Linked DNA regions of Homo sapiens. The protein of the gene in region 1 purifies or fractionates together with the protein of each later gene. This does not show direct contact. Each region holds a gene or a part of one and is shown in the gene's direction. Other genes may lie near its edges.

Region 1 (3,011 bases):
ATCGTCCTATCATAGGTGATGTTCCAGTTGCCTGTGAACATGGCTACATAATCATACAGATTGTCCAAAAGTTAAGGCTACATCTCCGGAATGATGGTTTGTCCTTTAAGGAAGGATAAGAGAAGACATGCATTCCCAGGAAGGTGTGAATACCCAAGAACTATTCTATGGAACCCCATGTAGTAAAGCGCTTCTCAGTAACTCTAAATTAGAGAAGCTATTTCAAACTAAAAATTCATCTCTAGAGATGTGGAAAGTTTAATCTTCAGTCTCCTGCTAGAAGGGTTGAGGATCTAGATACTCATGCAATTTGTATGGAGGACAGTGGAGAGAATGAAATACAGAATTTTACTATCTCCTCTCTCATGCATACAACTACCCTTGAGAACATTTTTTAAATTTTTGAAATCTTTATGAAAGTATAATTGGTATAAAAAGAACCGCATATATTTAATGTATAAAATTTCAAACACCCATGATATCTTCACCACAAACAAGGTAATGGACATATCTAATACCTCTCAAAGTTTCCTTGAGAACATTTTAAGTGAAAATGAAAAATTTAAGGTAATCAATAGTCTTTTTTTATTACAGGTCCTCTACCTTATTATATATAACATTGCTAAATAACCATTAAAAGTCATTTAGTCAGTAAGACAATGTGTTGTATTAAGAGACACTATGCCATGTAATTGTTCATCTGAACAGCCAAAATAATGACCTAAAGTTTCTTTGGAATCAAATAACCTACATTTAGTGTTAACTTTTTAAAGTTCCTGAAAATATATAACTCTCACTATGGAACCAAACTTTGGATTCTTTACTAATTATCAATATTAACATTCAGCAAAATAAAAATTCTTCAAGAACTTTCCAATTTTACCAGTTTTATACTTGCTACCAAATTCTTGATGTTCAGGTTGCCAGAATGGAACACTCAATCTAATTTGAACTTCAGTACTTCCTGAAAGCACTGATCTTAAGTAATCAGGGACATACACTAAAAAATTATTGATTTTTTTACCTGTAATTCAAGTTTAACTGAGTGTCCTGAATTTTTAGTCGCTAAATCTAGCAACCCTATTGAGGTTACTAGCATACATCACAAATTAATGAATCCAAAATGCGTACACCTTAGCCTCAGAAAGACAATGCAGGACCATGAAAGGGAATTGGCCCAATTTGCATCTTAGTAAACAGTAGCTCAGCCTAAATTAACCGTATGTGGAAAATTACAACCTGCTGAGTAGGTAAATGGGCATACAGTGGCCAGGCCAAGGATCGCCAAACACATTGTTTGTCAAGACTAATTAGGATTTAATGAAGATAGCTCCAGTCTTCATTTATCATTCCAGTCTCCATCACAAAACAGACTACAACAAAGAGGTAAAGAAAACTACATCAAAATCTAAGAAGCAGGTGTGGATGTCAAACTCCATCAGGTCAACTAGAAACTAATTGCATATTTAAACATGGCAGATAAAGTGCAGACTACTTTATTGTTCTTAGCAGTTGGAGAGTTTTCAGTGGGGATCTTAGGGAATGCATTCATTGGATTGGTAAACTGCATGGACTGGGTCAAGAAGAGGAAAATTGCCTCCATTGATTTAATCCTCACAAGTCTGGCCATATCCAGAATTTGTCTATTGTGCGTAATACTATTAGATTGTTTTATATTGGTGCTATATCCAGATGTCTATGCCACTGGTAAAGAAATGAGAATCATTGACTTCTTCTGGACACTAACCAATCATTTAAGTATCTGGTTTGCAACCTGCCTCAGCATTTACTATTTCTTCAAGATAGGTAATTTCTTTCACCCACTTTTCCTCTGGATGAAGTGGAGAATTGACAGGGTGATTTCCTGGATTCTACTGGGGTGCGTGGTTCTCTCTGTGTTTATTAGCCTTCCAGCCACTGAGAATTTGAACGCTGATTTCAGGTTTTGTGTGAAGGCAAAGAGGAAAACAAACTTAACTTGGAGTTGCAGAGTAAATAAAACTCAACATGCTTCTACCAAGTTATTTCTCAACCTGGCAACGCTGCTCCCCTTTTGTGTGTGCCTAATGTCCTTTTTCCTCTTGATCCTCTCCCTGCGGAGACATATCAGGCGAATGCAGCTCAGTGCCACAGGGTGCAGAGACCCCAGCACAGAAGCCCATGTGAGAGCCCTGAAAGCTGTCATTTCCTTCCTTCTCCTCTTTATTGCCTACTATTTGTCCTTTCTCATTGCCACCTCCAGCTACTTTATGCCAGAGACGGAATTAGCTGTGATTTTTGGTGAGTCCATAGCTCTAATCTACCCCTCAAGTCATTCATTTATCCTAATACTGGGGAACAATAAATTAAGACATGCATCTCTAAAGGTGATTTGGAAAGTAATGTCTATTCTAAAAGGAAGAAAATTCCAACAACATAAACAAATCTGAAGAGAAACTATGCTTTTCTAGGACAAACAAAGATAAGATGTTTCTAAATTAACTTCAGTTCTTGCATTAATGTTTTATGTGATTAATTACTCCTAAAACTTAATTAGTGTATCTGTAATTGTAATGTAGGGAATCTTATGTACAGCTGGCTGGATCTCTTTATCTCTGTCTCTGTTTCTGACTCTGTCTGTGTATCCCTGTTTCTCTCTTCTGTAACTCTTCCTTTCTTTAGAGTTGCTGTTTTTTAAAACATGTTTCAGAGCAAATAGAAATTAATATCCTAATATCAACTATCAAGAGTAGAGGGCATTTTCATAGTTCTAAACCGTGTTTCCAGATGCAAAGTTGTGTGACTAATTCAAAACAACTGTAACAGCATCTTGCTGTTATTTGCATCTTTATGAAAAGCAACTAGTTCCTTCTCATAGTCCGCGTTAGATGGTTCCTCTTGGATCATCCAACAAAGCTCTACTTTTGGGAAAGACTCAATAAAGTGACAGTTCTTAATAAATGCTGTGGAATTCTATGAATAATCTTATAATCACAGAAAAGGTATATATTATGGCTAAATATATTGTCACA
Region 2 (2,402 bases), on another chromosome or scaffold:
TTGGGAAAGGACACAGCAGAGCCAAGCCCACGTGCACCACGTACAACAGCCCGCAGCTGTCGGCTCAGGAGAACTTCCAGTTTGATAAGATGGAGGTGTGGGCGGTTGGAGACCCCTCAGAGGAGCAGTTGGTGAGTGGAGCTGTCCTCTGCATCCCAGGATGGCCCCTTGAGCCTGGGGGCCTTTCTGCATTTTCTTACCATTACCCCTTTACTCTTCTGTCTGCAGATAGTTTATCCCAAATTTGATCCTGGTAGCTGATGCTGGCTTGGATGCCAGGAGATGCATGGCTGGAAGTCTTGTCTGGGATTTGTGGGTGGTTTAGTAGAGCAGCCCTGGGAAGGGGGGTTCCCCAAGTGCGAGCCCAGGTGGCCCTTCATTCTCTCTGCCCACCTGCAAGAGGAGGAATGTCTAGGGTTCCTTCCGCTTCCCTGGTTCTGCACCTGAGTTGCTGTTGGCCCCTGAACCTCCTGTAATACCTCCTACCCACCCAGCCACTGAATCCCAGAGTGGGAGGGGCCTTAGGGGGAACCGGAGCCTGATTCCACCCAAGAAGGCTGGAAAACTAGCAGGAAGCTGCTGCCTCTTGTTGGGCCATCATGGAACACACCCACCCTTTCTTCTCTTCTCAAGGCCAAGGGCAACAAGAGCATCCTGGATGCGGACCCTGAGGCCCAGGCCCTGCTGGAGATCAGTGGGCATTCGCGCCACAGCGAAGGGCTCCGGGAAGTCCCGGACGATGAATGAGGAGCCGCCTGAGCCTTCCTGGAGCCAGGACCTGGATTCCTCTGGGTAGAGGGCAACGCCTGCAGCCCCTCTTCCCTCCCACATGGTTTAACTGTAATAGCGTACCGCACGGGTCACAGCCTGGTAGTCCCACATGTGCCAAGAAGACGCCCTCTGAAGCCATGTCCTGACTCATGGGTGGATCTCCCAGAAATAGATGTTTTTTAAGTTTTCTTTTTTTCCCTACAGGGTCACCCTCAGGATCTCTCCAAGAAATCTTGTGTCAAATTAGTAACTCAGTCTTATACTTTGTTCTTTTTTACCAACGAAATCCTAAGCAGCTGAGACCTTTCAGACCCCCGCTGGCATTAGGGAATTCCGCTGGCATTAGGGAATTCCGCTGGCATTAGGGAATTCCGCTGGCATTAGGGAATTCCGCTGGCATTAGGGAATTCCGCTGGCATTAGGGAATTCCGCTGGCATTAGGGAATTCCGCTGGCATTAGGGAATTCCGCTGGCATTAGGGAATTCCGCTGGCATTAGCATTGCTGGGATCTCAACTTCTCTATTGAGGAGGGGGTTCCTCCCGCTGGGGTTCATATGGCCTCACTCAGGCCATCCCTGTTAGAAGGTGGTACCTGATGGTCTGTTCTGACGGGTGAGGGACAGAGGCATCTGGATGAAAATCTCGACGCTTTCTGGGAACAGCTTCCAATGGCATGGGAGTTCTGTATTTAAAAGCATGAACTGTGTATAAAATGGGGAAATGGAGGCAGGAGACTTTGAGGTAACATGGTCTGGTGGTGGCATGAGTCCTCAGAAGGTATTTGTAATAAGGTTCCACACCCAGCTCTCTCAGCTGTTTTTAAATGAATGTGTGTGAGGAACAGATGGGAAAGTTGGGAGATCTGTCTACAGAGAAGCAAAGTTGTGGTTCTCTTGCTAACTTCAAGGTGAGGGACATTGGGCACCCTAAGTTTGGGAACTTGGTTGATAAATACGTATATGGTCCATTCCATAAATCAGTGGTGAGTGACTGGCCTGGGTTCTAGACCTCTGGGAACCAGCACCTGAGTCACAGCTGTCTAGGCCTCGGTGCTGGCCTGGGTTCTAGATCTCTGGGAACCAGTGCCTGAGTCACAGCTGTCAGTGCAGCCATTTGCCCAGGGCTGCTCCCGAGGGGGATGATGGGAAATTCAGCAGTGTAGACTGACTTTAAACAAGCTCCGGTGATCCTGAAATGCTGAAGATCGTGTAGGTGGGTTGTGGGGTCAGCAGAGCTGCCATCTGCCCACGTCTGGAAAACAACACACGGTGAGTCACCGGTTGGCCATGAGATCTCCCCACTTAAAGGTGCTGTGAGCTTGTCTCTAAGATATATACCTCTTCCTTTTGTCTTTTGCTGTAAGCTTTGACCTTTTGCAGATCTGATGAAAATACAACCTCTTATTGTATAGTTTGCCTTGATTATAAGCCATAGTAAATCGAGCTGTTCGCATTTTTGCAGGCCTTGCATTTTCTACTGGGAGGTTCATCAAACCTTCCACTTAGCAATAGCCCTGACTCAGGCAGAATGCCTCATAAATTAGCCTTCGAAAGAAAAGTGCACGCTCAGACAGTGTGTGGAGGGGCAGGAGCGTGATGCAGACAAGGACTTAGTCATGACTGATTTTCCT

What was found. Proteins that work in one complex are often made in the same cells at the same time.
Region 2: the proteins of TAS2R7 (region 1) and MEAK7 purify together in Homo sapiens (affinity purification with mass spectrometry, with the first as the bait; one large-scale study listed by BioGRID). This does not show direct contact.

The regions. Positions count from the first base shown.
Region 1 is NC_000012.12:10,801,032-10,804,042, reverse strand, and holds TAS2R7 (taste receptor type 2 member 7), read left to right. Parts: upstream 1-1,415; 5' UTR 1,416-1,472; coding exon 1,473-2,429; 3' UTR 2,430-2,511; downstream 2,512-3,011.
Region 2 is NC_000016.10:84,478,258-84,480,659, reverse strand, and holds part of MEAK7 (MTOR-associated protein MEAK7), read left to right. Parts: coding exon 1-131; intron 132-633; coding exon 634-747; 3' UTR 748-2,402. UniProt on the Homo sapiens protein: Activates an alternative mTOR signaling through RPS6KB2 activation and EIF4EBP1 repression to regulate cell proliferation and migration. Recruits MTOR at the lysosome, essential for MTOR signaling at the lysosome.